Homo sapiens: one gene and its partner. The protein of the gene in region 2 interacts with the protein of the main gene of each other region in a pairwise test. Each region holds a gene or a part of one and is shown on either strand. Other genes may lie near its edges. The genes, in order: CTDSP2 and CSF1R.

Evidence for each region.
Region 1: the proteins of CSF1R (region 2) and CTDSP2 interact in a two-hybrid assay, tested with the Homo sapiens proteins (one study listed by BioGRID and IntAct).

Annotation. Positions count from the first base shown.
Region 1 is NC_000012.12:57,836,553-57,840,362, forward strand, and holds part of CTDSP2 (carboxy-terminal domain RNA polymerase II polypeptide A small phosphatase 2), read right to left. Parts: intron 663-3,810; exon of another isoform or gene 539-662; intron 1-538. UniProt on the Homo sapiens protein: Preferentially catalyzes the dephosphorylation of 'Ser-5' within the tandem 7 residue repeats in the C-terminal domain (CTD) of the largest RNA polymerase II subunit POLR2A.
Region 2 is NC_000005.10:150,059,033-150,062,842, forward strand, and holds part of CSF1R (macrophage colony-stimulating factor 1 receptor isoform a precursor), read right to left. Parts: intron 2,818-3,810; coding exon 2,691-2,817; intron 2,564-2,690; coding exon 2,459-2,563; intron 1,941-2,458; coding exon 1,830-1,940; intron 831-1,829; coding exon 668-830; intron 1-667. UniProt on the Homo sapiens protein: Tyrosine-protein kinase that acts as a cell-surface receptor for CSF1 and IL34 and plays an essential role in the regulation of survival, proliferation and differentiation of hematopoietic precursor cells, especially mononuclear phagocytes, such as macrophages and monocytes.

The DNA of each region.
Region 1 (3,810 bases), on a different chromosome or scaffold from region 2:
AATCACCGGAGCCCAGGAGTTTGAGGCTGCGGTAAGCCGTGATTGCACCACTGCACTCCAGCCTGGGTGACAGAGTGAGATTTTGTCTTTAAAAAAAAAAAGTGTACATGTACAAACACGTGAACACGTGCACACATACACACAAACGAAGACCAGAGTGACCAGGGCAACACTGTTTTTAATCTTCTCCTGAAAGTCAGGTCCAGATACCACTTTTGTCAACAACACAGCTTTGTGTCCCAGCAAAGGAACTCCTCACACATCTGCCTGCGATTCAGCAGAAGGTAACCTCTGAGACAATCAGATTTTAACAAGCCCATTCAGGTAGAAAGTTGCTTTCTTTTTTGGTTCATCCCCAGAAGTACTTCCTTCCCCACCACCTCCCATCCCCCACAGCAAAGGACTTAGCCTTAGCCTGGCTATCACTATAAAATGGCCCCTCTGAGGGGCCTCCTTCCTCTCAGCTATTGGAGGAAGGAGAGTATTTGGAGCATTTCCGGCCCTTCTTGGACGGCTGCCTGAACCCTGCAGCCAAGACACATTTGACTGGGACTCCCCCATGGAGAGAAGTCCTCCCAGGTCCTCTGCAAGGGGCATCTGTTCCTTGGCTATGGACATGCCCTAAAGTGCCAGGTGGACGGAAGAGCTCCTGGGACCAGCAGGTGAGTCGGCAGGGAACAAAAGAGGGTGAGATGCCTAGACAGCCCCCACACACAAAAGACTGCAAACAATGGGGAGGGTGTACTGCTTTCATGCCTGGCCACTGACACTGTTCTCTACAGCTAACAAGCAAGGCAGGGCCGGACCCAGCTTAGCACCGGCTCCCGAAGTTCCAAAAAGTAGCTGTGTATCTAACTGCATGGGCATTTTTTGAAAAAAGCAGTTTTAACACTTTGGGGGGCAAAGGCAGTGGGGATCACTTAAGGTCAGAAGTTCGAGACCAGCATGACCAATATGGTGAAACCCCATCTTTACTAAAAATGCAAAAATTAGCAGGGTATGGTAGTGAGCTCCTGTAATCCCAGCTACTCCGGAGGCTGAGGCACGAGAATCACTTGAATCCAAGAGGTGGAGGTTGCAGTGAGCCGAGATCACACCATTGCACTCCAGCCTGGGGGACAGAGCAAAACTCTGTCTCAAAATAAATAAATAAATAAATAAAATTTAAAAAATTAAAAAGCAGTTTTAGCCATGCTGTTTGGCCCATACCAGCATGTTGTATGCTGGTGCCCTCTCTGCACCAGCAACTGGGGCAGCTCTACCTAAGCCAGTGTCTCCATTAGTTCCCTTTCCCTGGGCAGGAGAGCTCCCTATATGGCTGTCTCTTCTTTCAGACCTGAGTCCTTAATGCCACCTGTGGGGCGAGGGTCACAGGTCACACACTTTCTTGTCTCTGCCCCTTCAGCAATCTGTTCTCTGACCTCAGCTAGAGAGGTAAGAGGACTCAGTTTTGGGAGCAGGGGATTTCTGGCAGTTCTAAAGCACGCTGATTTCAGAATCAGCCTCTAAAGGAGGTATTGCCAAAACACCCTCCTGGGCAGCTCCAACGTACTTTAAAAACGTGCTGGGTTGGGGTGGGCCTCCATAAGTAGCAGATCCTGGACCAGAGACAGAGGAGGCGTTTCCTCATAGACAAGTCAGCTGCAGGCTCAGCCCTGCAAGCCCCACTCCAGAGGACTCTTGAGGGATGTCAGGAAGTGATCTAATAGCCCACAGGGCAGCAGGGACAAGCCTGAGATGCCATCCAAGAAAACTCAAAGGACTGGATCCTGCCCCTGCCTCAGCAGGAGACCCTGCCCTATGTAGCACCAGCCAGAGCAAAGGTATCATTGTGAGGGATTGGAAACCACACTTGCCTACCTGGAGTTACCCCTCCTTCCCCCTAAGGAGGTGTATAACAAGCCCCTGTGGGAGGGGCTACACACAGACAACCTCTCAGTGAGTGTTTCAAGTTCCTGCCTTAGTGCTGTGCCCTTGACTCCTGGAATGCTTAGATATAGTTGAAGCCTAGGAAGAATCCACTGCTTCTTTCCCTTCCAGGTATGTAGGCCTGCTTTAGGTTGATACAAACGTGAGCTGGAGAAAGCAGTGAGGACACAGGACAAAGCAAGGGTATCTGTTCTGACCAGGGAAAAATACAGTGGTGACACAAGGCACCCAGACTTGAGTTCGAATCTAGGCTCTGCCATGTGTAAGGTATGCAGCCATGGGCCTCAGTTTCTTCATCTGCAAAATGGGAAGACTACCTATTTCTCAGTGTCAGAATTGCAGGGAGCTCAGGGAGTGTCCTGGTCCTAACAAAAGCTTTGTAAGTGTCAACTGCTACTCATTAAGTGCAAAGTACTTTCATACTCTTACCTCAGTCTCCATCTCAAAATGTTCACATTAAAGGGACCATAGAGATTTCTTCTAACTCATTTCAGAGGTAGTAACAGGGCCAAACCGGAAATGATGTTTTCCGGGACTCCACAAAAACGAATCAGTCGCACACACACATACACACTCATTGAGGCTGGCCAACCAGTTCCTCCTTCATATGGCTGGCCTCTGCAGAAGGAATGGAAGGAGTCTGCCAGGGAGGCACCCATCTCCAGGGACATTCTGCTGCTCCCCCCACACCCCTCAGCTTCACCTATGACCAGCCAAGCCGTATAGGTGAGTCCACTTGAGAAAGTACTGATCTAGAAGTCAGGAAACCCAGCTCTTGCTCCAGTTCAGCTTTTCAACAGTTCCGTGGCCTTGCTAGGGCACAATTCTCTGGGGTTCAGTTTCCTCATAAGCCAATCTGGAAAGGTTTCCCCTGCATGGTCCCTTAAAAGGTGGCTTCACCTGAAGCATGCACCTGAATCATGAACTCAAAAGCACTCTAAAAGGTGAAATGTTAGGCCGGGCACGGTGGCTCAAGCCTGTAATCCCAGCACTTTGGGAGGCCAAGGCGGGCGGATCATGAGGTCAGGAGATCAAGACCATCCTGGCTAACACAGTGAAACCGCGTCTCTACTAAAAATACAAAAAATTAGCCGGGCGTGGTGGCGGGCGCCTGTAGTCCCAGCTACTCAGGAGGCTGAGCCAGGAGAATGGCATAGACCCAGGAGGTGGAGCTTGCAGTGAGCTGAGATCGAGATCGCGCCACTGCACTCCAGCCTGGGCGACAGAGCAAGACTCCATCTCAAAAAAAAAAGTGAAATGCCAGACAATGCAAATGTCTGGCTGACACTAGCCATGTACCCTTGGGCAAAGTCCTTCCCTCTCCCTGTGAAAGTTTTCCTTATCTGTAAAGTGAGGTTAATTCCTCTTATTGGAAAGGAAAAGTTGTCAGGAGAACTAAGTGAGATACGAGATATAAAATGCTAGGAATAGTACCTTGCCTATGGCAAGTACTCTATAAATATTGGCTGTAACCATTACTGGGTAAACAAGGATGGATCATTACTCTGTCCATTTACTCTGAAAACTTTAGGACTCCCCTTGAAGAGCCACAGATCTTTAACATACAGTAAAACGGGACCACCAAGAGGAATTTTCCTGCTCGGGGCAAAACAGGCAGTTGGGGCCACTGCTGTGCCTACCTGGCTCTTCTCCAGGGGCACCTGTCAGAGCCACAAGGAGCATTTGGAACACATGCATGCCTGACCCACCTGCCCATGCGCTGATTCAGCAGATCCCAGGTGGGGGGTCTGTATTTTTAGCAAGTGTCACAGGAGACTCTGATGTGTGTCCCTGGCTGAGAGCCAGTATCTACCGGTTGCCAGGGTCTCTGACTAACCCAGGGCTAGAAGGCAATTCAGCCAAAGTCCCCTTGGCCCCTCT
Region 2 (3,810 bases):
GGACAACAGAGCCATCTCTCTTTTTTTTTGAGACGGAGTTTCATTCTTGTTGCCCAGGCTGGAGTGCAATGGTGTGATCTCAGCTCACAGCAACCTCTGCCTCCTGGGTTCAAGCAATTCTCCCGCCTCAGCCTCCCGAGTAGCTGGGATTATAGGCATGCGCCACCACGCCCGGCTAATTTTGTATATTTAATAGAGACGGGGTTTCACCTTGTTGGTAAGGCTGGTCTCGAACTCCCATCCTCAGGTGATCTGCCCGCCTCAGCCTCCCAAAGTGCTGGGATTACAGGCATGAGCCACTGCACCCGGCCACATCTGCCCATCTCTTACTAGGGCTCCAGGCACAGATCTTGGTTGATCTTTTACACACACTGGGTGGTGATTTCATTGATGCATATCTCCACCAGATTATGAGCTGCCCATCTTTGCCCTCCACACTCCCAGAACACGGTAGGTGTTCAAATATTTGTTGAATGAAGGGGAAAAGGAGTAGAGAAACAAGAGATGGCCATAAAACCTGTGGTGGCTACTTCCCATGACACAGGTGGCAGGTGAGGGCTGCATAGCCACCCATTCATGAGCCATCCAACCCTGAGCTGGCTTTGAAGACAGACTCGGATCCTGCCTCCCAGACCTGGCCTTTTTCTTGTCCTTTGCCAGGGGCTACCTGCGGACATATTTCTTCTCGAGGTGGATGTTCTTATAGTCGACGCCTCCCTCGGGGTCCTGGCCGGGGCTCAGGCTGGGTCCCAGCATGGCCTCAGCCTTCCTTCGCAGAAAGTTGAGCAGGTCGCCATAGCAACAGTACTCCGTGATGACCAGTACAGGGCCTAGAGCAGCCAAGGGTGTGGGGTGAGGGAGGTGCTGAGTGCTCCCCTCCATGAACAGGAGCATGAGACTGGGGGCAGTGAGGCCACTGGACTTGGACTCAGCATAGCTGAGTTCTAACCTCGGCTCTGTGAGCAAGTTTCCTTGTGCCTCAGTAGTTCCATTTGTTTAAAACAGATGGCTTTGGCGGGGCACGGTGGCTCATGCCTGTAATCTCAGCACTTTGGGAGGCCAAGGTGGGTGGATCACGAGGTCAGGAGATCGAGACCATCCTGGCTAACATGGTGAAACCCCATCTCTACAAAAATACAAAAAAATCAGCCGGGCATGGTGGCATGTGCCTGTAGTTCCAACTACTCAGGAGGTTGAGGCAGGAGAATTGCTTGAACCTGGGAGGCAGAGGTTGCAGTGAGCCGAGATCGCACCACTGCACTCCAGCCTGGGTGACAGAGTGAGGCTCCGTCTCAAGAAAAAAAAAACAAAAAATGAAAAAAAAAAGACAACCTTAAAAAAAATGTAGCCCAAGAATTATTTCTTCAAAGGAAAGCTATGGCGGCTCACTGTAGGTCAGAGCTGCTATCAGTGAAGAGGATGTGGGGCACTTGGAGTCCCAGCAAAGCCCGGGGCACCTTTGGGGGCCCTGGGGAGAGTGTCCAAGCATCCTTGAATGGAAGCTTCATAAGAGGTAGGCGGGGGGCTTCACTCCAGACCCAGAGGATCCGGCTCCCTGGAAGCAGGGCCTAGGAGCTTGCACATTCATCTCCTCCTCCAAGGGCTCCGATGCTCCCTATCAGTCTCTCTTTATACCTCAAGCTGCCCGTGCAGCTCCTGACTATTCCAGGAGATGGGCCCAGGAGTTTAAGGGATGCTGTGACCGGGATCCCCCTGACACTTGGAGCAGTAGGATCCTGAGAAGGAGAAGACGGAACAAGGTAGCCCTGGGGCCCTGAGATTCCCCAGAGGCCCCAAGACCTTGGCCCCAGGAACCCCAAGGCCCTTACCTCCATGGGTACAGGCTCCCAGAAGGTTGACGATGTTCTCGTGCTGGCCCAGGTGGCTCATGATCTTCAGCTCGGACATGAGGGCCTCCTTCTCATCAGCATGGGCCGTGGCTGGGAGGAAGAACCACAGTCCCAAAGACAGGGAGAGGGCAGGACAGAGAGCACCACACAGATACATGGGGACCAAATGCAGAGACCCAGGGGAGAAAGCAGGGCATACCCCAAGACCCGGAGTGACCAGAAGCCAAAAGAAGGAGAAGGAAAAATGCAGACACACAGATGGCAGAGAGAGAGAGAGGAGGGATGAGCCTGTCACTGAGCTGGTCTTCAGGTGACAGGAAGCCAAACTGTGGCCAGGCCATGGCCATAGGTGGCCTTTCTGCACCCCCAGACTTTTTGGAGCTCAGTCAGGAGCCCCTTCACAACTAAAGGGTGACCTAGACCTTCTTGGAGCCGGGAGTCAGAGGGTGCCTGGAGCTCACAAGAAAACCCAAGTCCTCACCCCTGAGCTCTGTCCCCCAGGCTTCAACAGGTTGAAATGTGTGTGATGCCTCTTGTGACACCAGGGCCAGCCCACCCCCAGCATCTACCACCCCCCATCCCTTCCCTCATCCCCTCCCCTCACTCACACTTCAGCATCTTCACAGCCACCTTCAGGACAGCATCCTCCTTGCCCAGACCAAAGGCCGTGGCCTCCACCACCTTCCCAAAGGCTCCAGCTCCGAGGGTCTTACCTGCCACGCACACAGGTCCCTTAAGTCCCTGGGCACCAAAGGGCCTCTGTCCAAGGGCCCATGGGCTCCCTGCAACCCCCACAGGCCCTGTGATAGGAAGCTGTGGAGTGATGAGCTGCCATCTCACCAAACTGCAGGTTGTTCCGGGGGAACTCCCACTTCTCGTTGTAAGGCAGCTGCGTGGGGTCGATGAAAGTATAACTGTTGCCCTCATAGCTCTCGATGATCTTCCAGCGGACCTGGTACTTGGGCTTCTGCAGAAGAGGAAGGGAGCACGTGGCAGTCGGGGCTGGCAGGCAGTTCCTGGACCTTGTTTCTGACCCCCAAGAGCAGGGGTGTGGGCAGTCCCAAGGCGCCCAGTGGGAGAAGGCAGGGCAAGGCCTGCTCTGGGCTGAGAGAGGTCGTCTCATGAACATAGCACTGAGAGCATGTTCCTGCTTGACTCTGCCTTGTTGTGTGACCTTCCCTTCTCCAAGCCTGTTTCACTATTTGTGTATTGAAGACCTTGGACAAGACAACCTCTGAGGGCCCTGATATCTCTGATAATCTGGTAATTCCTGAGCCAGGAGGGAGGGTGGAACTTGAGATCTTATCCATCCGTTCATCTGTCCATCCATCTACCCATCCATCCACCCACCCAACCTCCCATCCAAATATATATATATATTTTAATTGTGATAAAACATACATGAAATTTACCATTTCAACCATTTTTAAGTGTATGGTTCAGTAGTATTAAGTAAATTACATTCTACCTTGTGCAACCAGTTTCCAGAGCTCTTTTCATCTTGCAAAACTGAAATTCTGTTCCTGTTAAAAAGCAACTCCCCTTTCCCTCCTCCAGCCCCTGGCAACCATGATTCTGCTGTCTCTGTGAATTGCACTGCTCTAGGCACTGCACCTCAGTGGACTCACACAGCATGTGTCTATTGAGATTGCCTTATTTCACCCAGCATAATGTCTTCAAGGTTCATTCATGCTGCAGCACAGGTCAGAATTCCCTTCCTTTTTAAGGCTGAATAATAGTAGCCCATCCACATACTTTCTTGAACATCTATTTGTGTCAGGCACCGCTGATTCAGAGTTGAACAGGACAAAGTCCCTGCCCCTCCATGGAGTTTGCATTCTAGTGGCTGAGAGAGGCATTAAACGCAAATAAACATGTATCTAGGAGATTCTCAAGTGGTGCTATGAAGAAAATAAAGTAAGATAAGTCAGGGAAGGCCCCTAAAGAGCCCACCATGTGA